3 linked regions of the Homo sapiens genome follow. The main gene of each other region encodes a partner of the protein of the gene in region 2 in a complex. Each region holds a gene or a part of one and is shown on either strand. Other genes may lie near its edges. A codon is read from its position in the direction of its gene.

Evidence for each region.
Region 1: the proteins of ATF2 (region 2) and MAPK8 are in contact, whole or in part, in a crystal structure (PDB 6ZR5), measured with the Homo sapiens proteins. Residues at the interface, in NP_001243019.1 of Homo sapiens: Phe36, Val44, Lys48, Met51, Thr52, Leu53, Lys54, Phe55, Gly56, Pro57; in NP_001310257.1 of Homo sapiens: Asp112, Ala113, Gln117, Val118, Met121, Glu126, Arg127, Tyr130, Leu131, Tyr133, Val159, Lys160, Ser161, Asp162, Cys163, Val323, Trp324, Asp326, Ser328, Glu329.
Region 3: the proteins of ATF2 (region 2) and MAPK10 are in contact, whole or in part, in a crystal structure (PDB 4H36), measured with the Homo sapiens proteins. Residues at the interface, in NP_001243019.1 of Homo sapiens: Lys48, His49, Met51, Thr52, Leu53, Lys54, Phe55; in NP_620448.1 of Homo sapiens: Asp150, Ala151, Gln155, Met159, Glu164, Arg165, Tyr168, Val197, Lys198, Ser199, Asp200, Cys201, Trp362 (codon at 2,928), Glu367 (codon at 2,913).

Annotation. Positions count from the first base shown.
Region 1 is NC_000010.11:48,309,667-48,320,363, reverse strand, and holds part of MAPK8 (mitogen-activated protein kinase 8), read right to left. Parts: intron 1-10,697. UniProt on the Homo sapiens protein: Serine/threonine-protein kinase involved in various processes such as cell proliferation, differentiation, migration, transformation and programmed cell death.
Region 2 is NC_000002.12:175,162,805-175,173,384, forward strand, and holds the start of ATF2 (cyclic AMP-dependent transcription factor ATF-2), read right to left. Parts: upstream 5,400-10,580; 5' UTR 5,246-5,399; intron 4,906-5,245; exon of another isoform or gene 4,829-4,905; intron 1-4,828. UniProt on the Homo sapiens protein: Transcriptional activator which regulates the transcription of various genes, including those involved in anti-apoptosis, cell growth, and DNA damage response.
Region 3 is NC_000004.12:86,061,365-86,072,061, forward strand, and holds part of MAPK10 (mitogen-activated protein kinase 10), read right to left. Parts: intron 6,592-10,697; coding exon 6,409-6,591; intron 3,027-6,408; coding exon 2,902-3,026; intron 1-2,901. UniProt on the Homo sapiens protein: Serine/threonine-protein kinase involved in various processes such as neuronal proliferation, differentiation, migration and programmed cell death.

The sequences.
Region 1 (10,697 bases), on a different chromosome or scaffold from region 2:
CAAGAGGCTGAGGCAGGAGGATTGCTTCAGCCCAGGAGTTTCAGCCTGTAGTGAGCCACGATCATGGTACTGCACTCCAGCCTGGGTAACAGGGTGACAGAGCAAGACCTGATCTAATTTAAAAAAAAAAAAAAAAAAAAAAAAAAAAAAAAGGCCGAGCAGTGGCTCACACCTGAAATCCCAGCACTTGGGAGGCCAAGGTGGGGGATCACCTGAGGTCAGGAGTTCAACACCAGCCTGACCAACATGGAGAAACCCTATCTCTACCAAAAATACAAAATAAGCTGGCAGTGGTGGCATGCGCCTGTAATCCCAACTACTGGGGAGGCTGAGGTAGGAGAATCACTTGAACCAGGAAGGCAGAGGTTGCAGTGAGCCAAGATCACGCCATTGCACTCCAGCCTGGGCAACAAGGGTGAAACTCTGTCTCAAAAAAAAAGAAAAGAAAAAAAAACAGAAACGAAGTACTGATACATGATACATGAACCTTAAAAACATCATGCTAAGTGAAATAAGCCAGTCACAAAAGATCGCACAGTGTATGATTCCACTTACATGAGAGATCCAGAATGCGCTGGGTGCAGTGGCTCACACCTGTAATCCCAGCACTTTTGGAGGCTGAAGTGGGTAGATCACTTGGGGTAAGGAGTTCAAGATCAGCCTGGCCAACATGGTGAAACCCTGTTTCTACTAAAAATACAAAAAAATTAGCCAGGCCTAGTGGCAGGCACCTGTAATCGCAGCTACTCGGGAGGCTGAGGCAGGAGAATTGCTTGAACCCGGGAGGTGGAGGCTGTAGAGAGCCGGGATCACGCCACTGCACTCCAGCCTGGGCAACAGAGCAAGACGTCATCTCAAAAAAATAAAAAAGAGATAGCCAGAATGAACAAAACTATAGAGAAGAAAGTGGGTAAGTGGCTGTTTAGGGCCAGGGAGAGGAGGGGGTGTGTGTGAAGAAATGGGGAGTGACTGCTAGTGAGTATGAGGTTACTTTCTGGGGTGACAAACATGTTCTAAAGTTAGGCTGTGATGATGGCTCCATTATTCCAGGAATATACTAAAAAAGCTTTGAGCTGTATATTTCAAATAGATAACTATAATGGTATGTGAATTATATCTCAATAAAACCGTTAAAAAATTCTTAGTCCCTTATTACACATGACACACTATGGTATTTTCTATTTCATTTCTTTTAACAACGTAACAGAAATTGTGATCTCCCAAAATTCTATAACCTACTAATGGGTCATGAGTAACAGTCTGAAAGCACTGCCACAGAGTCCTACAACACTAAAAGTGATAACCACCATCTCCTGTATCAGGACTAATCCTCTCATACCTCACATCCCTGCTTATGGTCACCAGAAAAAATCCAGCTCTCCCTGGTTATCTATTATTCTCTGAATTCTCACTGCCACACTGCTGTGTACGTCCTCCATTTGACTCAATTCTTCATCCTCCTAATTCCTTTACTTGGCCTTCTGAAATTCCCAATTTGTGACAAGCAAACTTAGCCTGTTACACTACCTTTAACCTTTCTTGTTCGTCTAGCCTCCCTCCAATTCTTCCTTATTCATTGAGGACATTACAACTGGTTTACAGTACGTACCCTTACTCCCCTCACTAGTTGCTGATTTCACCATGCATGCAGACTGACCCTTTTTTAATACCTCAGACTCTTTAACTCATTGGCCTCCTCACGTTCAGGATTTGTCTCTGAATTCCACCTCGGAAGCCCACACCCAAAGTTAACCTGAGCATTATTAATGTCAATAATTGTCATACTTGTGAAATCTCTCTTTCAGGTATTCCACTCTGACCATGGCATTCAATCTTTCAAGTTAACTTACTCAAACCCTGTGGCCAGTTACACACTCAACCACCACCACACAATAAGCATTCTAGTTAAAAGGTCCTTATTTCCCTTGTCCCCCTTTCCTTCTTTTGAACTGATCTGGTGTGATGGTTAGTTTTAAGTGTCAATTTGGCTAGTCTGTAGTACCCAGTTATTCAAACACTAATGTAGTTGCTGTGAAGGTATTTTGTAGATGTGATTAATATCTACAAACAGTCAAGTTTAAGTACAGGAGCTTATCCTTGATACCGTGGGTAGGCCTCATCCAATCACTTGGTAAGGCTTTAATAGCAAAAACAAGTTTCCCTGAGAAAAACAAAATTCTGCCTCAAGGCTGCAGTATTAACTCCTGACCAAGAATTTCCTGCCTGCCCTACAGATTTCAGACTTGCCAGCCCTCACAAAAACAAATGCCTTAAAATCTCAGTCTACCTACCTATAACTCCGATTTGCTGTTTCTCTGGAGAACTCTAATACACCTGGCAAAATCTCACCCTGGGTAAATTCAACTACCTGCCTTAATCTGTGCCTGTAACTAATCAGCTAAATAATGCTGGGGGGGTGGGGGGTCACAAAACCAGGCTGACTGATATCACTTTAAATTCAAGATTTTAAACCTTAAATGAACAATCAATACTTCTTGGCAAACTGCTTCAAACTCCCCAAACTCCCATCCCTTTCTGCCCGTATGAATCTCATGCTTCATTGAGCAAACAGAAACCACAGAGAAGATGAAAGCCAGGAGAATAGGCCTTCACCTTCCAACTTCCAAACTTCCTCGCAAGGGCACACAACTTTTCTGCATTTCCTCCTGTTAGATGGAAAAGATCTCTCCTCTACTGAGGGCCAAACTCTCTACCCGTACTCTGCATCCCCTTTCCTACATACAGCAATGCCATTTTCACTCATTTTCTGAGCCTCACAATTTCCTTTATCCACCAACCCATTTCTTTGTTCACTTCAGAGCTAATCTTAAAAGAGTGGTCTGCACCCACTGTGTCAGCACTTGCTCATTTCTCACTCTTTTTCAAAGTGTTTCATTCAGGGGCTGGGTGTGGTGGCTCACGCCTATAATCCCAGCACTTTGGGAGGCGGAGGTGGTAAGATCACGAGGCCAGGAGTTTCAGACCAGCCTAGGCAACACAGTGAGACCCCATCTTTACAAAAAACTTAAAAATTCGCCAGCCGAGTCCCAGCTACTCGGGAGGCTGGAGGCTGAGACAGGAAGATTCACTTGAACCCAGGAGTTTAAGGCTGCAGTGATCTACGATCACACCACTGCACTCCAGCCTGGGCAACAGAGGGAGACCCTGTCTTTAAAAAGAAAAATCATTCATTGTTTTTTAACCATCTTCAACTTGGCTTCTTTCTTCCCACTTTAATAAAACCACCCAACAAGATCACCAACAACTTCCCATATAATCTCTCTATGCCTGTTTCCTCATGTATAAAATGGGAGTAACAGTGCCCACCTTGTAGGGTTGCTGTGGGATGTTTAAACAATTTAACATACATAAAGCACAAGAACAGTGCCTGGTATATGATAGGCACCAAATATGCATTAGCTCCTATACCATTAGGATAGTCTGGATACTTGTTTTCCCGAGGTTCTAACTTTTTGTTTCTAGCTTACTTAACGATGTATGCGTCCTTCAGTAGAAAACTGCCTTAGCTTTTTGGTGGGAGCAGGGGAAGGGAAGAAGAGACAGAAAATAAACTATTTAATCCCCATTAAGCAATGAGATCTCTACTGAAGTTCAGCTAAGTACCTAACTACCATATAATTTTATAAGGATGAGCAACCTGCCCCAATCCAGTTGCCAAATCAAACTCACTCTTTGCACCCTCTCACTCCTGTGCTTTCCTGACTTGATTTTTGCATTTTTCCAAGCTTAAGACCCTCCTGTCTACATTCATTCACTTCATACTTCTCATATCTTGACCTCTACTTTGACTGCATGCTCTCTGACACCAGACTAAATTATATTTCCGGGAGCTGCCTCTGGGTGCTAAGCACATAGAAAGCAGCCTATACACATAGTCACACCTTGCTTAAGGACGGGGATACCTTCTGAGAAATGCATCATTAGGCAATTTCGTCACTGTGCAAACATCATGGAATCTACTTACACCAACCTAGATAGTACAACATACCTAAGCTATAATATGGTGTAGCCTACTGACCCTAGGCTACGAACCTGTACAGCAGGTTACTGTACTGAATACTGCAGGCAACTGTAACACAATGGGAAGTATTTGTGTATCTAAACATAGAAAAAATAGAGTAAAAATATGGTATAATTTTATGGGACCACTGTCACATATGTGGTCTGTAATGGACCGAAACCTCACCATGTGGTGCATGACTGTATCATCAAATAAGACACAAGGCAGTTAACTGCTAATCCTACATTCACTATCAAGTGATCCCCAACTTGTCCATTTAACATTTTGAAAACCACAATTCATTTCAAGTTACATTAACTTTAGAGAGAAAACTTCACACTACTTTAAGTATTCCCATAATCCCTCCCTAATTTCATTATTATTCATAACATTTAAATACTCAACAGATAAACAGATATTTTGGCTCATTTTACATATAATGGAGGAAAACTATAATCTTCTAAAATCACCACTATAAATGCAATAAGAAAAAATATAAGAGTATAAAAAGTTGGGGGAGGGAGGAGGTAAAAATCAAAGGAAACAAAAAAGCTGGCATGACATAAGAAAAATAAAAAATTCAACTACAAAACTATTAGAAATAATAAATATTCTACAGGGGGCTTATTATTTAATATATGAAATATTAACTAATATACAAAATAAAAAGCTTTCTTATATATAACCAGATAGAAGATAAAAGTGGAAAAAAAGATGCCATTTCCAGCAAAAAAAAAAAAACTTAAATATATAAAACAGCAAAAAAAAATTTTAATGTTTAAAAATGCTATCAGGAACTCAAAATGAGACTTCAACAAATGAAAAGGTTGTTTTTCCTATTCTTGGATATAAAGGTACATCATAAAGCTGTCACTTATTCTATAAATACAAAGAAATCCTAACAGTACACTGAATCCATTTAATAGAAGCCAATCACTGGGGAGCAAGGTAACTTGAAAAGGATGTAAGAAAAGGTTCTGGGTGATGGAAGTGTTCTGTATTTTGATCTGGGATTGCACAAGTGTATACAAAGGCAAACTTATTGGACTGTAATGCTTGTGCATCTAGCTGTGCATAATTTTACCACAATAAAATAAAAAAAGTGATTCCAACAGAAAGACTGGCAGAGGAGGGGTACAGACTAGACTAGATGGGTTGTTTTTAGAAGTTCATATAAAATAAACAAGATAGAAGCCAGAAAAAAACTTCTGAAAAGGAAGAGAAATAAAAGGGAATTAGACCTAGCAGAAAACACAGCATAAACTACAATAATAAAAACAGGATGGCTCAGGTCCCAAACAGGCAGATGGGTCAATGGAAACAATGGTACCAAATACACGTGGAAATTTTGTAAATGGTAAAGGTGGCATTTTAAATCAGTTAAGACAAAGATGGATTATTTAATAAATGGTGTAGGGACAAATGGATGGATATCTGGTGAAGAAAATAAAGTTGGAACCATACATAATAGCCTACCATAGAATGGAAAACAGCAAATTGGGGAAAAACATTTCCAAAAAATAGCATGGAGCCAATTTGTAAAATTAATCCTACAAATCTAGGAAAATGAGCAACAAAGCAATAGAAAAACATGCAAAGACAAGGACAGTTCAAAAGAAAGAAAACACAAACAGCCCTTAAAAGATGAAAGACGTCTAAGGGTAATAAGAAGCAGGCATCCTTACACAGTGCTGGTGGAATGGAAGTTGGACAACCTCTACAGGCTACACTTCAGCAATACATAAAATTACAAATGCACATACGCTGGCCTAGGAACTCTACCTCTGGAAATTTATCCTATGCATTTAAGTGCAACACGACGTATGCACAAGGTAATCCACTGCACCATGGCTTTTGATAGCAAAAGTCTGAAAACTACCTAAATATGCATCAGAAAGGAGTTAAATGGTATACCAGTATAATGATGTTATGGACTGTCTGTGTCCCTCCAAATTCATATGTTGAAGGCCTACCCTCTAACTTGATAGTATCTGGAGGAGAGACCTTTAGGAGTTAACTAAGCCTCTCATGACTATATTAGGTCATGAGGGTGGAGCCCCCATGATAGGATGAGGAACAGACTAGAGCTCTTAGGGGCCATGTGAGGATACATCCAGAAGCCGGCCACCTATAAAGCCAGGAAAAGGACCCTCACCAGGGAACCAAATTGACTAAGTAGCCTAATCTTGAACTTCCCGACCTCCAGAACTGTGAGAAATAAATTTCTGTTGTTTAAACCACTCAAGTTATGGTATTTTGATATAGCAGCCCAAACAGAGTAAGACAAATGGAATACCACAAAGATGTTAAAAAAGCATGCCATTTACATACTGATATGACTGATATAAAATAATCTCTCAGCTATATTAAAACAAAAAGCAGGCCACGTGCGGTGGCTCACACCCGTAATCCCAGCACTTTGGAGGCCAAGGCAGGTGGATCACCTGTAATCCCAGCTACTCAGGAGGCTGAGGCAGGAGAATCACCTGAACCTCGGAGGCAGAGGTGGCAGTGAGCTGAGATTGTGCCACTGCACTCCAGCCTGGGCAACAAGAGTGAGACTCCGTCTCAAAAAACAAACCAACAAGCAAAAAACAAAAAAGCAAAAGGTGATACATATTGCATGCAACAACTTACATTAAATAAAAAGGGAGGGAGCAGAGCAGAGGCTATACAGTACTGTATATATGTATGACACCTATCCTTCATTGGCAAAGCCAAAATCCATAAAGCTGTGAAAAATACGTTTTTAAAATAAGTTTAGTACAAACGTATTTGGTGGTAAAACCTGACGAGACGTAGCATAAGATTTTATAATCTTTATTCACCCTACTTGTATTTGTTATGCTTTTATAAAAATATTAATGTCTTTGATTATTTCTGGGTGTTGTTGTTGTTGTTGTTTTTTGAGACAGAGTCTACACCTCTGCCGCCCAGGCTGGAGTGTAGTGGCACGATCTCAGCTCACTGCAACCTCCGCCTCCTAGATTCAAGAGATTCTCCTGCCTCAACCTCCCAAGTAGCTGGGATTACAGGCGTACGCTACCACGCCCAGCTAATTTTTGTATTTTTAGTATAGACGGGGTATCACTATGTTGGCCAAGCTGGTCTCAAACTCCTGACCTCAGGTGATCCGCCCGCCTCGGCCTCCCAAAGTGCTCAGATTACAGGCGTGAGCCACCGCGCCTGGCCTATGTCTGTATTTTTTACAGAAATGTTAATGTGTTTAATCATGAGGCTACAACCTCTTACTAGGGATTTTGGATAACACGGTAGATGTGCTACATTATCTTTCCACAACTGCAAAAAAAGCCTTCATTCTAAAATACATCTGGACCAAGGATTTTGAACAAAGGATTATATACTTAAACATATATAAACTATCTTTGGAAGTATTCACAGGAATTTTAACAGTTTCCAGGCAGAAGAACTAGGTGGCTACACAGAGTAGAAAAGGAGATTCTTTATCTTTTTAAATCTTTGGAATTTTGAGTCAAAGTGAATTCATTACTACTTAGTCAAAATATAAAATGTAAACAAATTAAAACATTAAGACTTTTAAATTCTCAATAGTAACAGCCAAAGCTAGATGCTTTGGTTTTTGTTTAACTGAAAAGTGACGCTTTCTCAAGTCACAGAAAAATCCACACAGCAGTAGCTTTTCTTTATCTTACCTTTGGTTGACCCAATGGCATCTGAAAATCAGAAAGCCATCCTTCCTGGAACAAGTCAGAAAATGGTGATTTTTCTACCCAATTAATGACTTTTAGGAAATAACATCTTATGGTTTTGATGTTTCCTGCCAAGCAAAGCAAGTGCTTGTGTGTGGCTATTTTTCGTTTCTAGTTTCCCCAGAAATATGGTGGGTGGCAGGCTTGAGTCTCTCAGCACCAAGAGGCAGTACTGGAGGACTATACTTCTCAATACTGGAGAGAGACTTTAAAAAGTGTTTCTAGTACAGATCCAGCCTTACATCATAAGAGCTTCAATACAGAGGAGATTGAGAACTCTGGTTAGTACCTGAGTAGCATCTTTTCTACTGTCAGCTTTTCATATTTCTCATATACTTATTTTGATACCCTGTTGTATTCCAAAATGAATTCATAAGGTTTGCCTTTTCTTATGATTTGGATTTTGACTAATGTGCACCACACTCTCAACTTAAACCAGGAATCAGAAAAGAAGATATCTTGCTTTCTCAGGTTTATCGAGTGAGTACAAAGGCATGGCAAGAGATGTAAGGTTTGGAAGGCCCCAAATGCCCCAATGACAAAAGAAATTCCTAATGAAATGACTAACAATATTTGCTTCCTTGTGTTAGGACATAAATGTGCTTACGTTAATCCTTATCTTCTATCAAATTATACTCAGCTCACTGAGGGTAGAAACTGACTTCTATTTCCTTTGGTTCCTACATCACCGAATACCTGGATTAGTATAGTGCAATGCTCAGTAAATACTGCCGAAGTAAAAACCAGTGTCATCTCATAGTAGATGCTCTTGAGAAGGAACAAGAAATTTAATCCACCATTATAATCATAGAAACGCTAAACAGAAGACTTAGAAAACCACAGAAAATACAGAAAAGATAATATTTCTAAGTGGTACTAATAAATAATCTCCCTCATTTTTTAAGAGGCCTCCAGGCCTCAATGAATTGTTGTGGTTACCAGGTCTCTGACAAATCTGCAATCTTCACAGAATCGAAGATCCCAATAACACTAAATTTAAAAGATGTGACAGCATTCCATTTTCTTCAAATGTGTCACATGATAAAGCTATTCGTAGCTCCTAAATTCTCATTCCTTTAGATGTCTATAACAAACCTAGGAAAGCTTAGGCAATTTTCTCCTGTGGGAAAAGGCAAAAAATCGTGAAAGTGGCAAATATGTTCCCTTCAATATTTGCTTCTGGAACATTTCCAAATTTTAAGATAGAGAGGATTACTGGTCCAAATGTTAATATAAATCATCTCAGTCAATTCAGATTACATGAGATGATCGAATTTTAAATAAACCCCCCAGAGATGCAGAGTGAAACAAATGGCATATTCTGGAGAATTAGAATGGACACTGTGCATTAAACTGGTTTGACGTTTACTTGGCATTTTATGTTTGTTCAAAGTTAAATATAAGTGATAACAATAGCAAAAACTACCTGAATACTTGTATCTAGCATTCCAGCCACCACAACAGTGCCAGGCACTTTACATGCAGTACCTAATTTAAACCTCACAGCCCTATGAGGTTACGTGCTATTATTATTCTCATTTGACAGATAATAAAACAGGCCCAAATATGTTATATAACCTGAACTAGCCTATACCACAGTTAGATTGGAGCACGATTAGAACTCAGGGCTGACCTTAAAACCCACGCTAGCAATCATTGTAAGGTTTGAGTTCCTTGACTTTCTAAAGAATGGCAGATTTTAACTAAATCTGAAATATAATAAAGGGTAACAGGAAACACAGGTATCTCTTGTATTTGTGATATAACCCACCTCCAAGAAAAAGAATGGAAGCTACTAAGTTTTCCAAAAAGGGGTCTCCTCTCTGTCTCTCTCCATGCACATACGTATACACACATACACACACACACACACACACACACAATTTTAAAAACTGGATTTCAGTGAAATTTGGCCTGCACAGAGATGTGAAGTGGGCTTTTGTTTGGCGGGAACCCTTTCATATACCTTTTAAAAGAGCATAAATTAACTGTTTAGCGATGCCTTCAGTCTAATCCTTGATTATAAGCTTCCTGAGGATAATGAACTCATTTTATGTCTTCCACAAAGTCTCTGGGAGCATACGGTCTCATTAGAAGGCATGATGCTGTGGAATAAATAAAAGCCTACCTTTCCAAGAATCTCTAGCTTATGGTGAAGCCTTCCATTTGTTTTCTAAGTCTGGATATTAAAGAAAAAATTCAACTCAACAATTTTTTTGGCTTCTGAAAATTACAAAATTACAAAATCCTAACTTTGACTACTGTTCTTAACTTAGGCTTCTGATTATCACCCAAGAAGGGCTCTTTTTGTCCTAGTATGTTTTCTCAAGAACCACCTATCTGAGGAACAAGCCTTCTATAAAAAAAAGTTCTGACAGCCTCAGTTTATACTTTTAAAGCCAAAAACATTAAGGCACTTGCCTAAAGCTCCAGAATTTGATGACAAAGTCCAGATGGCAGAACTGAGAAATGAACCTAGGTCTGATTCCTGGATTGCTCTAGCTCCACCTATTGACCTGAATGACAGGATAACTCATTTCAATACTCCTGTTACCTTTCAGTCAACTCACTTCTGAAATCAAAGTTCAACTTAACCTGCATTAAGAGTAAGAATGCAAGGCTTCTAAATGTTCAGGTAAAGAGCTCATGATTAAGACAATCAGCATCACAGTTCACTGACATAGGCAAATGATTCATATATAAAGCTATGTGGTTATAATGACTTCCTTGGACCACATGAATCAGAAAAGCTACTACCCATACCATTGACTTGACCAGAGACCTCTAGAGCACTGGAATCCTAATGTCAGACATTATTTTGTATTTCCACTCGTGCAACAAAGCATCTCAACCATGTAGATGACTGAAATATGTCAAAATTCAACCCGCTGGCAAAGCAGACCAACAAGAAGCAGGCTCCTATTCAACAACCTCTTAGCACTAGG
Region 2 (10,580 bases):
GTTGATATATAAAAAAATTGTTCCGACACGTTTAATAAATAAAAGCAGGCTGGGTGCAGTGGCTCATGCCTGTAATCCCAGCACTTTGGGAGGCCGAGGTGGGCGGATCACAAGGTCAGAAGATCGAGACCATCCTAGCTAACACGGTGAAACCCCGTCTCTACTAAAAATATTAAAAAATTTGCCGGGCGTGGTGGTGGGTGCCTGTAGTCCCAGCTACTTGGGAGGCTGAGGCAGGAGAATGGCATGAACCTGGGAGGCGGAGCTTGCAGTGAGCCAAGATCGTGCCACTGCACTCCAGCCTGGGCAACAGAGCGAGACTCTGTCTCAAAAAATAAATAAATAAATAAATAAATAAATAAATAAATAAATAAATAAATGCAAGCAAACATACTAGCCCGAACAGTAAAATTAGAAAAACCAAAGCTATAACATTGGAGCAAAGCTAAAAAAATTAGAATGACAAAGGTTTCGGTTCTGCTAGCAAACTAAAGAATATTTAGGGAATATATTTATAAACTTATGGTCAATATTATAGATAAAAATACTATATATTACAAAAATAACCAAAGTCCATATGGTATTTTGCCAATTACAATTATTTCTCCCTGTCTTTCCCTACCAGTCTTGTTGAGAATCTCTGTGGTAATAAGCCACTACTACTGTTGGAAGTATTTTGTATTCCTTGGGTAGAAAGGCAAAAAAGTGGCTGAGAACCACTATCTTTGTTAAGATACAGAATGCAAATATGGGTGAATAGGCAAAGCCCCCAAAACATTGTTTACATCTCTTCTTTACTGTCAATGTCAAAATGCCAAGGAAAAAAAATCAATAAACATACTTAAAAAATGAAAAATGATGCTGGGTGGTGGCTCATGCCTGTAATTCCAACACTTTGGGAGGCCGAGGCAGGTTCGAGACCAGCCTGGCCAACATGGTGAAACCCCGTTTCTATTAAAAATACAAAAATTAGCCAGGTGTGGTGGCGGGCACCTGTAATCCCAGCTACTCAGGAGGCTGAGGCAGGAGAATCACTTGAACCTGGGAGGCAGAGGTTACAATGAGCTGAGAGCGGCACTGCACTCCAGCCTGGGTGACATAGCAACTCCGTCTCAAAAAAAAAAAAAAGAAAAGTGAAAATGAATACACTAGTTTCAAGGTTGCCAACAAGAATAAATTGAAAAGATATATATAATGAATACATATTTATTTATAATTATATAATATGTAACATTAAATACACCTGTAACACAATGTGTAAAAATAGGCCCGGGTGCAGTGGCTCATGCCTGTAATGCCTTAAAAGTGAAAATGAATACACCAGTTTCAAGGTTGTCAAAAAGTCTCAACAAATTGAAAAGACACATATAATGAATACATATTTATTTATATTTATATAATATGTAACATTAAATATATTTATATTATAAAATAATGTGTAAAAATAGGCCTAGTGTAGTGGCTCACGCCTGTAATCCCAACACTTTGAGAGGCCAAGGCGAGTGGATCACTCGAGGCCAGGAAGTCGAGATCAGCCTGGCCAACATGGTGAAACCCCATCTCTACTAAAAATACAAAAATCAGCAGGGAATGGTGGTGCACCCCTGTAATCCTAGTTATTCGGGAGGCTCAGACAGGAGAACCGCTTGAATCCGGGAGGTGGAGATTGCAGTGAGCCAAGACTGCACCACTGCACTCCAGCGTGGAAGCCAGAGGGAGACTCTGTCTCAAAAATAAAATAAGATAAAATACAATTACTGATGGCCTTAAAGATCCACAAATTTCCTTGATTTTCTATGAAACTATCTTATACCTTACTATATAACCTTTTAACCTTGAGAAACATAACAAAGGAAATAAAATGTTCTCTGGGGTTTTCCTTCAAATAGAAATAGGTGAATACTATCCTACTACTTCAACATTAAAACTTACATAAAGAGAACATGCAGCATTTTAGACAAGTTCTTAGCCTTGAGGAACAGGTGTGAGTATGAGATAAACACAGAAATACTAAATTAAACTCCAGATTATAACAATACTAAGTGAATTTTTTGGTTTTTGTTTTGTTTTGAGATGCAGTCTCATTCTGTTGCCCAGGCTAGAGTGCAGTGGCACGATCGGCTCTCACTGCAGCCTCCTGCTCCTAGGTGCTAGCGATTCTCCTGCCTCAGCCTCCCCAGTAGCTGGGATTGCAGGCGCCTACCAACGTGGTTTCACCATGTTGGCCAGGCTGGTCTTGAACTCCTGACCTCAGCTGATCCGCCTGCCTCAGCCTCCCAAAGTGCTGGGATTACAGGCGTGAGCTACCACACCTGGCTAAGGTGGGATTTTTTTTAGGGTACATTTTAATTATACAAAATAACCCAACAGGTGCTATATGCATTGACTTTTATAAAAATCAGTTGAATATTAATTATTGCTATTCACTGAATTTTTAACGAGAGGTTCTGATGAAAATCTGGTTTTCATAAGGGAGACTTCAACTACTTTATATTCTCCAATGACATTTTAGTAAGAATAAAAAAGAGAAAGAAATGCCTACTTATAGGTATATTTCATATTGGAAGGAAGAGCCTTTAGACAAAATTAGTAGAAAAAGCACACATTGGTGAGATTGTTTACCTGATCTAACACGATCTAACAATTTACCAGACAAGAACGTATGTATCATTAAAACCGAAGTTTTCCAAAATACAAAAATTTGGGTAGAAAAAATGTACATTATTTTTTGAAGAGTTAATGCTACTTACAGATAGATGTTTGATGTATGGCATATTTTTCTACCATAGTCATAGAGCTTTCAGATCCTGAATACCAATAAAGACCACCCCAACCCCACTATTTGTTAAAATGCTGACAACCATTTCTACTATTTATTTATTTGAGACGGAGTCTCGCTGTGTCGCCCAGGTTGGAGTGCAGTGGCGCCATCTCGGCTCACTGCAACCTCCGCCTCCCAGGTTCAACAGATTCTCCGCCTCAGCCTCTCGAGTAGGTGGGACTACAGGAGCCAACACACCCAGCTAATTTTTGGTATTTTTAGTAGAGACGGGGTTTCACCGTGTTAGCTAGGATGGTCTCGATCTCCTCACCTCATGATCCGCCCCACTCGGCCTCACGAAGTGCTGGCATTACAGGCATGAGCCACCGCGCACGCCCAGCCTCTACTATTATCTTAGCTTAAAAACAAAAAACGCCAAAGAAAAAAGTGCAGGAATTCCTGGGTTACATATTTAACTAATAAAAATACAGTGCCCCAAATACGAAATAAACATTCGGATAAGATATTTTAAAAAGGATTTTCAGGAAATGCACCCGGAGCTATAGAAGGTATTATGTACACTACACATACAAAAAAAAGTCCCTGAAAGCTCCTTCCTGACAATTAAAATACATAACAACTAAGTTCTAAATTTCCACGATATTACATTTTAAATCAGTTCTTAAAACTTAATGGCAGTAGCATTCTCTCAAAGCAAGATTAAACGTCTTAGGAAGGCAACATACACATCATGGTAAATTTGGAAGATTCTCAGAAACTCTTTTACACATCACGGTAAATTTGGAAGATTCCTAGAAATTATTTTACAAAGACGAGGATTCTTAACTATTACGCAACTACTGATGGCCTTAAAGATCCATGAACTTTCTTAATCTGCAGAGGGGAATCTGTATATTTAAAACGTATTTTACAAGGATGTTCCTAACATTTTTGAAACAAAGTTTTTACGGTGGATTCCTCAAGTAAGGAAAAAAAAATTAATACATGATAAAACTGCTTCTGTGTTTGTACTTTAAGACACTTAAACCTGTAGGTTTGACTTTTTAACAAGCTTTTATAAATAAAGCTTTACCTTCATAATTTTGATTCAAGAGACCAAAGCTATATGGCTATTTAAAGATCAGAACGGCTGTTACTCACAATGATAACGCCAGTGGTCATGTTTCTTCAAATAGGACAAAAAGTGTGCTCAAAGAAAGTCAGTTTTTGTTCTGATTTTAAATGTATATCTTAAATGCATGCATTGTGACCGTCTCCATAATTTAAAACCTCTAAGAAATTTAAACTTTCACATTATAATTTAGGGATTAGTCAATCCCTTAGTACCAGTTAAATAATAGCCAGGAAAGCATTAGAAAACCTGAAGGTACATGTAAAGAAATGCTTTACATCACTATTTAAAATAGGTGTTGAATTTTAAGAGAAACATTTCTTTCACTAAAATTTCTGATGCCTAAGGTCCATCAGGAGTAATCTCTTTTACTCCATGATATTCACAGTAGTTTTGCTCTTGGCCTCACCAGTTTTAAGACTCTCCATTAAAGAAAGCCAATTTTATACTACCTAGGGGCACAAAAATAGTTCCCAGCTCCTCCTCTCTTTTTCCTCCTAGGTTCGGTTAAACGAGCGAACATAGAAAACACGTACACACACTCCCTTTCGGCCCTGGTCCCTAGGGCATTGATGAAAAGCAAATTATTTCTTTACATACGCTCTGCTGTCCACCCAGAGATTTAAAAAAAAAAAAATAAGGGAAAATACCAGAATCAGTCTGCACCCACACCTAAGCCCCGCCCCACCGGGAAAAAGCTGGGGGTAGCGGGATTGTGAGGGTGGCGGAAAGGACGGAAAAGGCCGAGACTTCCAGCTCCTAGGTTCTCCACACCATTCTTTCCTTCAAGCTGCACCGCAGCCAGGGACCCTGATTCTATTTTCAGCCGCGCCTCCCGATCCTCCTCCCCGCCACCATCACCAATACACGGTCCTCAATCGCTTGAATACTGGGTGGGGAGACCAGAGTGGGCCCTCTCCCCGCCCAACCCAAGGACTGTGGGTGGGAGAGGTCTCCCTGCGCACACGGCTGACTCGACGCGCGCCCCGAGGACCTCTGAACTGACCCAAGTAGGGTGAAGATAATTCGGAGGGAGGGGTCTAAGAGGGAGCCGTTATTCCTTTTTCCTCTGCCTTAGGAAAGCGCGCGAGAGGGAGGGGCCGGAACAACGAACGCTGGTTACCTAACGGTCCGGCCCAGCCAGTCAGGTTCCCAAAGCCCACACCGCGCGGGCCGCCGAGGTGGCAGCACAGCCACAATCGCCCCAAGGGCTAAGGAGCACGTCAGGAGCACCCGAGGTGATGGGAAACGGGGGGTGGGGACTGTGCTGAGCGACGTCGCCATGTTAGCGCCTTCTTTCTCCGTATCCCTACAGTCTCCAGCCCTGCTGACCTCTGCCCATCGTTACTCACCTTTCCAGGTCACTAGTTCATGATCCTTTCGGTCACCCGCGAGCCCTGAGCACAGCCGTGTTTACAAAGCACCCCTGGAGGAAAAGGCTGAACGGCACTTTAAAGGCCACGGGCTCCCACAGGCTTCCGTCCTCTCTCGCGAGATCGGACTGACAACCCCCGCCCGCTCGCCCCGCTCCCGGCATCCCCACCTTCCTTCTGGCGCCCCTCCCCTTCACCCACACGCCCCTTCTTGCCTTCCTTCTGAGGGAGCGCCTCCGAGTCAGGTGATTCCGTCAGGCTTAAGGAGAAGAAGGCGGGTCTTCGGCAGGGCGGGTAGAGGGGACGGGCATCAAAGAGCACTCGGGCGCTCATGATTGGACAAGGAGCCCGAAGGGCGGGAAGCAGTTCTGGAGGGGGCGGGACCAGAGGGCCCAAGGAGCGTTACTTCTGTAAACCCGGAGCTGTGGAAGACTGTGATTGGCTGTCGGCTGGAGGAGGGCGCGGGTGCAGGCGGCGGTGAAGGGCTAGGCAGGGCTTTGGCGGTGTGAGGGGAGGAAAGGTGGTGAGCTCCGGAAAGGCTGCTAGAGGGAAAGCAGGATGGGTCCTCCGAGCCCAGCCCCAGGAGCCGGGTGTCTCCGTTTCCGTCACTTCCCAGCACTAGGTAGGGAGGTGGGTAAAAGTAGGCTGCGTTCCTCAGCCCACCCCTTGGCTCCCCGGGAGCCTGAGGCGGGGAGCTTCGGGTTAGGTGAGGTTTGGGGGAGGCGGAGTTTGCTGGTAATTGCCCATCCCTCCCCTCCAAAAAACCCCACACAACTTAAAGATTTTAATATTAACTGTAAGGATGTTGGTTATTCAATAAATAGGCACAAGTTGAAAAGTATGATCAGAGGCCTCTGTGAGAATTTACATTATTCAATAAAAGATTTTCAGTGTCTTATTTTTTCCATTTATTAAATACTGATTTCTAGTCTGGAACAAAATTATGAACTAGTTTATATATTAACATAAAATACACTCTCAAAATTGTTGAAAGGTTTTGGGGGATAGTATGAGAGTTAATGAGCCTGAAGTTCAAGAATGATATCTGGCATAAAAGTGAAATTGTAATGGCATTGACATTTTAACAGGTAGGTCTCTGGACCGCATACATGTGTATAAGCCAACTCAGTCCTCTTTTAAAACTAATTTTAGTTAAGAAACATTAAGCCAAATTATTAACACTTTCCTACTTAAAATGAAAGTACCGTCCCCATATAGTAACAGTAATGTAGTAGTGCCATTGTAGTGTAACACTAATTATGTCAGCAAAACCTCACAGTTCAGATTACTCATGATGGAAATGGTGGACAAAATGTTTGATTGACATCACAATTGTTAGGTCTAGAACGCATTGATTAAATAGATGCTTCTCTCTCCATCTCCCAAAACAACTAATGTGAGAAAAAGAACTGCAAATGTTACGACATTTCAAAAGAAGTTTGGGTCAATTAGAATAGATTTTTTTAAAAAAATTGTTTTTCCATTTGAAATTTTTTCCAGTGTTGATTCAATTGGGCAGTAGCTTTGGTTTTAAATTTCTCATTGCTACTTCTCCAGTCTGTTGTCAAGCAGTTAGTTATCTACATGATGCATTCGAGAAACACATTATTTTAAAGAAAGTCTTTCAGTTCTTTTTAGACAAGAGAAGAACTGTTTAGTGATATGAACAGTACTCTGATCTGTTTTGATAATTCAGTTTTAGCTAATTTTCTAAAGAGAGGGTATACCTAAAGTGAGAAAAAAAAATAAGATAGGCGCAGGAAACAGGTGGAAACTATGCCGATCTGTTATATATGCATTTTGGCAGCCCGGCATTTAACAAAGGGTCTCACTTTATCCACATATTTCTAGTTCCACAGCAGTTTGTTTACTATAGTTTTTCTACAAGTGGGGAAAACATTCAGCATTGTCAAAATGAATGTAGTTACCATATTCAGGTCTGATTCCATGAACTTGTCTCACTACTTATTCATATCCTCATAAAATGCCACCCTTTTCCATCTTTGTTCTCACTTTTGCATTCCTCAATATCCCCAAGAGTCCTAAAATTCTTTACAGTCTTCTCTTTACAAACGCAGGAAACTTCTTGTAGACCTCTTCTTTGCCTGTCTTGTTCCATGATGCATCTACCCAACTTAGTTCTAAGAGAATTAGTGAGGGTCTAGTGAATCTCCTTTAAGAACCCAGCATAACTGCTAAATAAAACTAATATTCCTTAGATACAAAATGAGGCTATTTGAAGAAAATGCATTTCTGTCATGAAAATGTTAATAAATATCACAAGAAACAATGATGGTCTCTAAGTGCCCTCAAAATCTTACAAATGCCACACAATGTGGTATTTCCACCTTAGTATGATAGGGCTGCTAATCCATAATCTGTTAAAACTGCTCACAAAAATTCTAAAACGTGTGTGTGTGTGTGTGTGTATGTATGTATGTATATATATGTGTATATATGTGTGTGTGTGTGTGTGTGTGTGTATATATATATCTGTTCTCACGCTGCTAATAAAGATATACCCGAGACTGGGTAATTTATAAAGGAAAGAGGTTTAATTGATTCACAGTTCAGCATGGCTGGGGAGGCTTCAGGAAACTCACAATCATGGCGGAAGGGGAAGCAAACATGTCCTTCTTCACATGAATGAGTGCCCAGCAAAAGGAGAAGCCCATTATAAAACCATCAGATCTCTGAGAACTAACTCACTATCATGAGAACAGGATGGGGAAACCACCCCAATGATTCAATTATCTCCACCTGGTCCCTCCCATGACATGTGGGGATTATGGGAACTACACTTCAAGATGAGATTTGGGGTGGGGACACAGCCAAACCATATCTCTCTCCATCTTCCCTTTCAACTTCCTCTCCTTCTCTCTCTCACTAATAATTGATTTTCAGAACATAGTTTCTGTTTGTCTGCAGCTAACCAAAACATAGAAGACTACAGGGCACCCCTTATGTCTACTTGGTACAACTAATCCTAGGCTTAGGGAAAGAGCCTCTACATTTTCATGATATTCTCAGGATGCAGCCCAGTACAGTGGATTAGCTGGGATTTTATCAGTGGGATCAAGGTAGGGGTGTGTGTGGTGTGTGTGTGTGTGTGTGAGATGTGAAAGGGGTGGGAGACGCAGGACATGATTACCCCACTGATATCTGAGAAATGAAATAGGATAATGTGGCCCTAGACGTTGTACAGACATTTTGGTAGCTTCTATCTCATGGCAGATCTTTTCCTCTCTCTGCCAGCTCAGGGTCTTCCTGCACATTGCTGAAATGGCCTATGTTAAAGTTACCTCTCAGCACTTGTCCTCATCATGGACATTTTAAGTGCAGGGATGTCTACCCTCCAACCCAAATCTTGGGTTTCCCAAAAGAATTTATAATTAATGGGGTGTGGCATTATGGGGAAAAAGGGCTATGTTTATCTTCACATCATACCAGTTAGCTTATACTACCTTCAACAAAACCAGCCCAGAGAGAGGGAGAATGGAATTTAAGGGCCTTGTTTTCATTCTTGATGCTAATGCCACCTCTCTCTCTCATCTGACTCACCAGAAAGAGGGATTGCCATCATTATATTCTTTTTATACAATATTATTAATAAAAATAGGATCACTCCTACCTTTCATAGCTTCCCATAACTAGTCTATTTGTCAACCTGAGGCCCACGTAACACCAAAGCCATGTGATCTGTATCCTAGAAATCAAGGGAGGTCTGTCAGCATATGGATCCTCCTGGGTCCTTAGACTACCATCCTGCTCGTTTCAGTTACCTTCTTACCTTGGATACAGCCTCATAGGTCAACTATGGCCAATGAGGTCAAGCATCAACCTAATGCTCTCCTTACTCATAAAGCATCTATATTAATTGAGCATGAACATTCCAGGCACTGTTTCTGGCTCTGAGGTGACAACTATAAATAAGACAAAGTTTTTTCAGGAGACTCTTGTGGTTGGGTGCAGGGGCAGGGGGAGACATGCTACATATATAAACAAGATAATTTAAATTGTGGTAAGTACTATGGAGAAAATAAAGCCGGGGTGTAATAACATACAATATTAGAACTTGCTTTTTAAATACAACTTTAGAGAACTTGAAAGTAACAGACACTTTAGATAGCACTAGAGTGGTCGGAGAATTCTGTGAGTTGTCCTTAAGATACAACTCTTGAGGGAAAAATACTGCGATGTCTGGCAGCTGAGAGACTCAGCCAACCTGTGTAGCTATTTGAGGAAGCAAAGCCTGGGATGCAATTATAAGAGGAGATCCTGGAGTCTCCATGGCTGGGAAGTGCTGACTAAAAGCTGTTGTTGAAGCGCCACTGACAACAATCATGGGTCCTCAGGAGTCTCTGCCATAATAAGTTGTAGGATGCTAGCTCATGCTAATGGGAGGAACAACCAAAAGCTCTTGGATTTATGAGTCTCTATTGGTCTTAGGTACTCTCTTTACTTCCTCTCTCCAATATTTAAGCTCCCTTGAGAAAGAAGATCGAAGTCACTAAATGTCTCAGAGGAGACACATTACTTTTGTCAATTCAGGAGAAAGAAGTGCAAATTCTTGCCAGGAACCTGAACCAGTTTTTAGGGAAATAATATTTTTTTGCCCTTAATAATGTAAAGAATTGGGCAAGTAACTGATGGACCATGTATTTGGGTGTTAAGTCCATAACACTGTCAGTAGAATTATAATATGAAATAACTACGTTGATATGCTCAGCATGTAGAGGAATCAACAACTCATTTATAATTTCCTATGTAGAAATCACAAAATATTTTAAAAGGCTTTGCACGTAGGACCATAACAATACAATTTTTTCCTCTTCCAAGTACCCAACACCCAAACCAAACCATATTCACTAAATTTGTCTAACAGAACTTAAAATTTACAGCAGAAGCACAAGTAGTTTATTTGGTTCTCAAATGTTATTTCCCATTTATCTACAATCCTGCCTTAAAATTAACAGCATTTACATTTATTTCTACCCAACTTCAATCACTCAGCAACTTGACCTCAAATTTTGATCATTCCTCGAGCCTACCTTATTTCCAAGATCTTGAACTCTGAAATTCTTTAAATTTCTTGTGTATTTTTTGGTTCTTATTGAAATGGCTTTTCAACATTAGTGAAACCTCTGAGCTCTTGACCCCTCTGTTATTTCAATTTATCACCTTTATTGTGTCTTCCCTTGTTCCTTACCCAGTTTGAAATGCATAGGTCATTTTGTTGAACAGTGCGCTTGTTTGCTGTCTGCCTAGAGCCACTTTGACCTTCCATCATCTCTTCTTCCCAGTGCACAACCCT
Region 3 (10,697 bases), on a different chromosome or scaffold from region 2:
ACACTTTGTTACTCTAAACATTATTTGAATAAGAAGTTGCTAATAATTTGAGCAGTTATTTCAAAATATTTATGTACTATTACTACACAGATGGATTACTCTTGAGCTTGGCATCCAATTTTTAAAATTTTCTAACTCATGTGTACATGACTAATTTTCCCTCTCAGAATTATGACAACATTCATTCATATGCTCTTCTCTCTTGATTTTTGTACTTTGGTAGTTTGGGAAACATGATAAGATAGCTCGTAGTATAACTAATAGCTTAGCACACATAGCATATCTATACTCTTTTGACTTTTCCTCTAAATATCACCTTATCATAGTTTGTTCTTTATCCCCTATCCACTTGCCATTATTTCCATCCAATGAAACTTATTTTTCTTCTCTCTCATCTTTGAATTTCCTTCCCTCCCTAACAGCATGTGAGTTACTTGAAAGCTCTTTGATCAGAATAAAAATCCCAATTATTTGATACTTCCATTTATTTGGATTATAAAGACATACGGGGGTATATTTTGCAAAACAGTCTTGTCAGCCCCGGCAGAAGATATATCACTATATTATAGCTTTGCCATGTGTCCATAGAGAAAGGTTATCTTATGTTAAACACATGTTCATATGCAATAACAGAGACATGAATTCTAAGGATATTGCAGAAAGCATAGCTGACTACTGATTCTAGCACCTTCAGGATCTTTCTCTTCTTAGTTGTGACCACTGTAATGCACTTCATAGAGTAATAAATTGTTCTTGCCCTGGGATCATGATTCCCATCTCTTCACTACAACATGTCTAGATGTAAGACATGTTTACCCTTGTATAATCAATGATCTGAGTCTAGATGTCAAGTACTTGCTTGTTCTGTGCATTAACTGTCTTCTTTTTCTGGAACTGCAGGCTCTATCAGATCCTTCCCCTAAAATTCATACATCCTGCCTTGTTACTATCCGTGCCCCAGCATGACCAATATCAAAGTGGTTAAGAAAAAGGCTCCAGCTATTTTAGTATCCTAAATTTTATCTTTTCATTCTACAAAGAAGTTTTTCATAAAAAGTTAAAATAAATTTAAAAACTCATTGATACTATTCAGTAAGATGTTATAGATTCCAAGCAACTATCTCTTTTATAGGCAACATAATTAAAAGTGAATTACAAATGCAGACTTTATGACTCTAATTAAACTCTAGGCCACAATGCATTAAAAACAGATTATACATATTAAGTTAGATATAAGAAAAAATAAATATGCCACATAGTGAGGCATAAGTTAATATGCCTCAAAATAAATGAGGAGAAACAATTTCAGATAATACATATTTATATAAAATGTTTATCAACATAACCTAAAATATTTTCTTGAATTTCATCAGAGATAAAATTTTTATACTTAATTTTTGTAAACATATACATCATACTTTCTCTCACTTACTTCACTACTTCATTCCATCCCAAGAACATCTGTGCAAGTATTTCCCAAGTGTGGGAGACTGGAAGAGGTTCTATATTTTGGTTGTAAGAATATATATTAATTTTTAGAACATTATAATTAAACTCAGAAATATTTAATTGTAGGGATATTATTTGGTAAGAATCAAATAAAATGACTAAAAATTAACTTGAGGCAACATGAAATCTCAACATCATTGTAAAACTAAGAGAGCAGATCTTAAACAAAATGTAGTGCAGTCTTCACACTTGGGAGATTCATTAATCACTTAAGTGTTTTCTCTGAAGTTTTTAAATGCTTAAAGATTGGGTTACATTATGAAAAGGACCTGTTTAATATTGTGTCTGTAAAGTTCAATTCTACCTAGTTCTCACTTTCTTTCGTATCTTCTCTAGTGAAGAATGAAGAAATGAGAATTATGTGTTTGAATCTAGCACCTCTGACATGGAAAAACACATGGTGAAGCAGAGGAAAGAAAACTGAAAGAAAGTGAAAATATCTTTAAGAATACTTTGGGGAAACAAACAGTATTTCAAATGAAAGATTAAGAACAAATCCAAACAAATGGATTGGAAGGTATTATGTAAAAAAATATGAGATGCTTTAGCACAGGTACTCTAAGAATTTGAGAAGCTTCTCATGTTTAAGGGAGAAGGTAACATTCCTGATAGAAACATTTAAAGGCAGTGCAGAAAGGAAATTCTCATCAGGAGGCCTATAGAACACACATGGGCAACAGCAAGCCCCCCTTGCCCTGCTCAGCCCTGGATCCATACAGAGGAAAGGAGAGAGGTAAAGATGAAAGAAAGAGGTTGAACAGAAGATAGTAAATGGTTGAAAAATATTTTTAAAATAGAAAGAGTTATGCTTCTGAGAAGATTCTCCATGTCTGGGTATCAGACATGGAGATACATCATACTGATCAACCTGAAGTAATGTACTTACTGAAATACCCACTTCTAGTTCATCTAGTTCATGCAAGGTTTCACAAAGCCACCAATCGTTTTAATCATCTTATAAAAGCTTTCTAATTGAAATATTCTTAAGTATCACATTTTACTAGTGGCAGGTATCTTTTCAAAAAAAAAATACAAGCTAAGCAACTTGTCCTCTGTTGTTTCCTACCACTAAGTTTGCATTAGAAGAGACTGGCAGTCAAACACACAAGAAGAAACACAAGTATTGGCAATTTAACAGAAACAAATGGTAGTGTATCATGGACATCTAAGGTTTGTAGGACTAAATCATACCCTCTTCTAGTAAGTCCTGAAAAAAATGTATTTAAAACATATGTTGAAGAAAATAGCTTTTAGAGGGGCAGATAATAGGCTTTGGACTTAGAAATTTTATAAAAATCCATTGTGCATTCTTTAGGCTTCTAGTCCTATTCAGTTTTTGCTATGAGCTATGATTTGTTTGTGGAAGCAAAGTAAAGGCAGCCTATTTCTTACCGCCTCCACTTCGGCTGGGTCATACCAGACGTTGATGTAGGGATGCTGTAAGGCGTCGTCCACTGATATTCTTTTTGCTGGGTCAATCACTAGCATCTTTGACAACAAGTCCCTGGCTTGGCTGGCTGAAACAATAAATGAGAAAAACAATTAGTAAGATTTTGATTTCAGTAAGGAAATTTGTCAGAGAGGAAATTTAAGAAAACAAAGTATGGAATAGTATCTTCCTTCCAAACATCAGGTAAATCCCTTGATGTGATGGAAAAGAAAATGCATTTTACACCTGTTTCTTTGTGTCTCTAAGCCTAAGGCTTCATTCTGAGGCTCTCCAAGGGTTGTAACACTTTGGGTATATAATTATTCACGCAAACTTCTTAGTAAAATGTATCAACCTGGAGAGTTTATGTAAGCAAAGTCATCTTCTTTGGTAACCTGCATGAATATAGGATAAACAGAATAAAGAGCACAGAGTGCAAATGCATGATGTTCAACAAATGTGTGGACGGCTGTTTGAAGTTAATCAACACGTGTGTCTCTATATTCTTATTTATACAACGGAATTATCAGAATTTTAGTATATAAATTGACTTAAGAGTTTGTATCATACAAATTTTTCTTTTCTTTTTGTTTTTGTTTATTTATTTATTTATTTATTTTTGAGACAGGGTATCCCTCTGTTGCCAGGCTGGAGTGTAGTGGAATGATCACAGCTCACTGCAGCCTGGAACTCCTGCGCTCAAAGGATCCTCCCATCCCAGCTTCCCGAGTAACTGGAACTACAGGCATGCACCACCATGCCTGGCTATTTTTTCTTTCTTTCTTTTTTTTTGTAAAGATAAGATCTCCCTACATTGCCCAAGCTGGTCTCGAACTCTGGGCTCAAAGATCCTCCCACCTCAGCCTCCCAAAATGCTGGGATTAAAGGAGTGAGCCACTGCTCCCAGCCACAAATTTCTTATATACATAAAAACAATCAAAGAATTGAAGTGATAGAAATAATATCATTCAACTACTGAATTTTATTTTAACATTCTGTAATCATCAGGTATTTTTAATCAATGGAATCATGACTTGATGAAATCCAGTAGTTAAAGACTGAAGCCAGTCTAATGCTACACCAGACACTAATGAGAAACTCTATATTATGTAAAGGTTATCATAATTAATTTTATGGTTGTGGGCAGTAACAGTTATAAAATTATATGGTGATAGCTATTTATTTAGTAAGATTGTTAAAAGACACATTAATTTTAACCTCTAAAAATATGTAAATTTTTTAAATTATTATACTTTAAGTTCTGGGATACATGTGCACAACATGCAGGTTTGTTACATAGGTATACACATGCCATAGTGGTTTGCTGCACCCACCAACCTGTCATCTACATTAGGTATTTCTCCTAAAGCTATCCCTCCCCTAGTCTTTTACATAAAGTTTTAACAGAAATGAATATCTCAAATCAATATTGTTACTCAACTGATCTGAAAGTTGAACCGTGAAAATATTCAGTTTATTCTAACTATATGGTAAAACATCAAATTAAAGATAACAAAATTTAAATGGATTTTTCAAAAAATCAACATAGATGACTCTGGATACATATCAATTTTTATTTAATCAATTTTTCAGATTAAAACAACTTGGCTAATTCTACAAATTTGAAAATTATATAAAATACAAAAATCAGGAAATAATATCTAACCCCACTAGCTAGAGGCAATGACTGTGATTATTGGCATATTTTTTCTAGTGCCGTTCATGTATTTTTCACGTAATATTAACCATACTATAGTTAAAATGTAGCAATTAATTTTTTACCTGTAAGTATTTTCTTGGTAATTACATCAATAAATATATCTTTTAATTTTCTGAACAAATATGAAAAATCACTAGTTAAACTTGAGAATTTTTTATTTCTATTAATCATTTTTCTGGGAAACTCAATCCTAGAAACTGATTATCATTACTTTCAAATTAAAACTCTGTACCGCACAGGAATAACAAAAATACAGAAATACTTATACATTAATTCAATATTTAATTTTTCTCATTGCCAATGGCCTCCTAATAGCCTAACAGGGCTGTGTTTATTTATTCATTGCTTTAAAGACCTCTTTAATTTGTAACTGATTTTACATCCAAATTCATGTACCATTCTCATAAGATTCTCTCATCAAATCTATCCATTTTTCTGCTCTTAGAAAGGGCTGGGGTTAGCCGGGCGTGGTCGTGGCTGACACCTGCAATCCCAGCACTTTGGAAGGCCGAGGCAGGCAGACCACGAAGTCAGGAGGTCGAGACGATCCTGGCTACCACGGTGAAACCCCATCTCTACTAAAAATACAAAAATTAGCTGGGCGTGGTGGCGGGCGCCTGTAGTCCCAGCTACTCGGGAGGTTGAGGCAGGAGAATGGAGTGAACCTGGGAGACGGAGCTTGCAGTGAGCCTAGATCGGTATCCCGGGCGACAGAGCGAGACTCTGTCTCAAAAAAAAAAAAAAAAAAAAAAAGAAAGGGCTGGGGTTACAATGGATTCTTCATGAATAGGGTCATGAACTACACCAATACAAAATCATCTTGCTAAGAAACAATACTATTTTTAGGAAACAATATGGGAAAATGTTTCAATGCTTTATCTTTCATTCTTTCATTTGAAAGCAAATGTGTTATGCTCTTTTCCAAACACAGTAGAATACATTCTTCTCTTTGGTTATTTGTATATTAAGATTATTTATAATTTGCCAATTTTATATTAAAAATTAAATTCAATAATCAAATATGCAAACTAGTTTATCATTTACAAACATAATTGCAGAGATTCAAATTGATTTAAAAAGTAAACTCAAGAAAATTGGAATTACATTATGAAGTATAATATATATCTATTTTTTGAGACGGAGTCTTGCTCACTCTATCTCTAGGCTGGAATGCAGTTGCCCGATCTCGGCTCACTGCAACCTCTTCCTCCTAGGTTCAAGCGACTCTCCTGCCTCAGCCTCCTGAGTAGCTGGGACTAGAGGTGTGTGCCACCATGCCCAGCTAATTTTTTTATATTTTTAGGAGAGACGCAGTTTCACCATGTTGGCCAGGATGGTCTGTCTCGATTTCCTGACCTCTTGATCCTCCCGCCTCCGCCTTCCAAAGTGCTGAGGTTACAGACTTGAGCCACCGCCCCCGGCCCTGAATATCCAGACAATTCTAAAATCCGTGGCTACTCCCCTTTGTAGGAACGATCTTTGAAGAAATATTTCTTTAACTTGAGGCTGTGCCAATTAAAGAATTGATCAATGTTTTAGGTGATGGGTTATGCTAATTGCTCTGATTTGACCATTATACCTCTATACATGTTTCAAAAATACCACCCTATATCCCACAAAAATGTACGATTATCATGTGTCAACTAAAAATAAAAGGGAACAAAGAGAAAGAGATAGAGGTCTCTATACTGTGTGCTTGTTTGGCCCGTCACCCTCATAGTTGTCCTCAAGTCATTCCTGAAGGGCATACCTTTGAGTTTATTGTGCTCGGAGTCCGCTGGGAAGAGGGAATCTGGGAAGAGTTTGGGGAAGGTGAGTCCCGCATACTTGGGCCGATTCTCCACATAGTTTCTTACTGTGGGTTGCAATTTCTTCATGAATTCTGGACATGGTGTTCCTAGTTGTTCAATTACCTTATTCCACTGGTCAATATCTGAGAATTGAACAGTTAAGGGAAAAAAGAAGAGCAGACCACTAGCCTTTCAACAATTGGGAGACTAACTCTTCTCAAAGTCCTCAACAGTCATTAATGCAACTGTAGTTTTAATAAGCAACAAAGAATGAAAATATAAAATCAGACTTGCAGGCTATGAGTCTTCTTGAAATTTTAAATTCACTTTTGAAACTTATATACTTTTGGAAAACTAGCAATTATTTAACAAAATAAGATATCATGAAATAGTCTTTGGGGTGTACAGATAAAAAGTCATTCAGATAACACAAGATGAATCTCATATTCTGCAGATAAACTTCTATATAAATCATGTGATTCAGAAGAAAAATATATAATGACACATCATAGTGACATTTTTATCCTGAAGTTACCTCAATTATTTATATTTTTAAAATGACAAATACACAAATATTTTAGATTATATTCATTTACATTTTCCTAAACTATCTTTAAGATATTTTTTCTTCTCTAAAAATCTGGAATTTTTTTCTATTTTTATGCATATCAACATAACTTTTATAGTAAAACAACTCATTAGTTCTTTGTCAGATTCCTAAAAATCATATTTATTAAACAAAGAAGCCACCTATTTCATACCTATTGTTTTACTGATGATATCACTGAATATTGTTTTCAATGAAATATAAGGGTGAACAGAGGAATATTCAATTTAAAACAACAGATTTCTATCCAAGTACATCCAAGTTTAGAAAGTACATTAAGCATGGGGAATACCACAGAAAAAATATTACCTCTCTATGAAAATTAATACCCTTTTAAATTGGAGCTAGCTCTTTTTGCAGACATACTCAATGATTGAGATTCTCTTTTTTATCTGTCATTAATATTCGATATATCAGAGCCTTGATAATGATAAACACCATCTACTCTGAAGAACCAACTGGAAACAACTGATTTAAACAGATTTCCTCGCCATGTGCCAGTGAATAATAGAGATCTTGGAAATTCCCTTAAATCCAATACTGCAAGCAGTATTCTCTCCTACATTGCTTATTCTTCTACAACTGTTCTTTGGTGTTAAGTTAGTTAACTCATTTCCACTAAGGTAAGGTGTGACAGTTAAGGGACTCTTACCATAATATTACTTAGTTGAAGTTTGTCAAGTCTTTACTCCTAGCTATTCAAGAGGTTTGGACTGAAAAAGATTGTCAGTCCTGATTAAAGATAAACTTAACTGTATTCAACAAAAAGAAATATATAATACAAACAGTAGATAGGAGATTGAACAAAGATAAAATCAAACTAATTTGCAAATCCTTTTCTTCATCTCTATAATCTGGCTGAATAAAACTTAAATTATTACATATTCTGTCAGTTATTGGAATAAAAAATATATAACCATGGACTATGAAGATATGAAATGAAGGTGGGAAAAACAATAATATTCCTTAATAAAGCAGTAGTAATAATTAAACAAGAACATGCTTTGATAGAAGCTCATCTAATTATCATGTGCATGAGAAAATACAGCAGTAATTCAGAATCACTAGAAATAATGAAACTAAAACATTATATAAGGTTAGAGTTACAAATTACTCTTAGACATGAGCCTGTATTAATACTATGGATATAGGTAAGCTATAAGTACTTAGACATACTTAAATAGAATACATTAGTGTAGTTAAATAAAACCTAAGTGCTTGTCATTATAAATTATGAAGAGACATTTTTTAAACAGTTAGGTTAGCATGCCCTACCAAGCTATCATTTCATCATTGATCAAACTTCCTCAAAATTCTAACCACTCGATGTCAAACTTAAAATAGAGGCAAAGAAGATGTCAGATTTTCTGTAAATAAGTCATTTAACAAAGTTGGCAAAATAATCCCAACACAGTATTATATCCTAATTACATTTGCTATAATTATAAAGATATACAGTAAATAATTGATTTTAAAGAAGTACTCCCAAAACAAAAAAAACTGATACTTTTATATTAAAGTTTAAGGAGAGTCAGATATTCTGGAATTTGTTAAATAAGAATTGTTAAAATGTTTCTTGTAATAAATCATAATTAGAATCTAGAGACACACTCAGCGCTCTTTCCTACCTTAGGTTGCTTTTAAATGAAACACTGTTGTGATTCTTGATGCAATGGTTTACAAAAAGAAGGGTGGCAAAAATCTTTATCATTGTCAATGAAATAGTTAAATGTTCATACTGCAAATCTGAGTTACAGTGATCTTTAAAAGTCTGTGTCTTTATTTTAACCAATCCATTTCAAGATTTTTCTTCCCAAAAACATATGTGTGTGTATATCTACATATGGTAAGTACTTGTTTTCTAGATGTTCATAGAATACAAACATGAACAACTATGTCCAATTTAGTTGAGCACATGATTTTTCTTTCTTTTTTTTTTTGTAGCACTTGAAGGGCTTTATTTTTTTTTCTTTTTCTTTTTTTTATTATACTTTAAGTTTTAGGGTACATGTGCACATTGTGCAGGTTAGTTACATATGTATACATGTGCCATGCTGGTGCGCTGCACCCACTAACTCGTCATCTAGCATTAGGTATATCTCCCAATGCTATCCTTCCCCCCTCCCCCCACCCCACCACAGTCCCCAGAGTGTCATATTCCCCTTCCTGTGTCCATGTGATCTCATTGTTCAATTCCCACCTATGAGTGAGAATATGCGGTGTTTGGTTTTTTGTTCTTGCAATAGTTTACTGAGAATGATGATTTCCAGTTTCATCCATGTCCCTACAAAGGACATGAACTCATCATTTTTTATGGCTGCATAGTATTCCATGGTGTATATGTGCCACATTTTCTTAATCCAGTCTATCATTGTTGGACATTTGGGTTGGTTCCAAGTCTTTGCTATTGTGAATAATGCCATAATAAAAATACGTGTGCATGTGTCTTTATAGCAGCATGATTTATAGTCATTTGGGTATATACCCAGTAATGGGATGGCTGGGTCAAATGGTATTTCTAGTTCTAGATCCCTGAGGAATCGCCACACTGACTTCCACAATGGTTGAACCAGTTTACAGTCCCACCAACAGTGTAAAAGTGTTGCTATTTCTCCACATCCTCTCCAGCACCTGTTGTTTCCTGACTTTTTAATGATTGCCATTCTAACTGGTGTGAGATGGTATCTCATAGTGGTTTTGATTTGCATTTCTCTGATGGCCAGTGATGATGAGCATTTTTTCATGTGTTTTTTGGCTGCATAAATGTCTTCTTTTGAGAAGTCTCTGTTGATGACCTTCGCCCACTTTTTAATGGGGTTGTTTGTTTTTTTCTTGTAAATTTGTTTGAGTTCATTGTAGATTCTGGATATTAGCCCTTTGTCAGATGAGTAGGTTGCGAACATTTTCTCCCATTTTGTAGGTTGCCTGTTCACTCTGATGGTAGTTTCTTTTGCTGTGCAGAAGCTCTTTAGTTTAATTAGATCCCATTTGTCAATTTTGTCTTTTGTTGCCGTTGCTTTTGGTGTTTTGGACATGAAGTCCTTGCCCATGCCTATGTCCTGAATGGTAATGCCTAGGTTTTCTTCTAGGGTTTTTATGGTTTTAGGTCTAACGTTTAAGTCTTTAATCCATCTTGAATTGATTTTTGTATAAGGTGTAAGGAAGGGATCCAGTTTCAGCTTCCTACATATGGCTAGCCAGTTTTCCCAGCACCATTTATTAAATAGGGAATCCTTTCCCCATTGTTGTTTTTCTCAGGTTTGTCAAAGATCAGATAGTTGTAGGTATGCGGCGTTATTTCTGAGGGCTCTGTTCTGTTCCATTGATCTATATCTCTGTTTAGGTACCAGTACCATGCTGTTTTGGTTACTGTAGCCTTGTAGTATAGTTTGAAGTCAGGTAGTGTGATTCCTCCAGCTTTGTTCTTTTGGCTTAGGATTGACTTGGCAATGCGGGCTCTTTTTTGGTTCCATATGAACTTTAAAGTAGTTTTTTCCAATTCTGTGAAGAAAGGCATTGGTAGCTTGATGGGGATGGCATTGAATCTGTAAATTACCTTGGGCAGTATGGCCATTTTCACGATATTGATTCTTCCTACCCATGAGCATGGAATGTTCTTCCATTTGTTTGTATCCTCTTTTA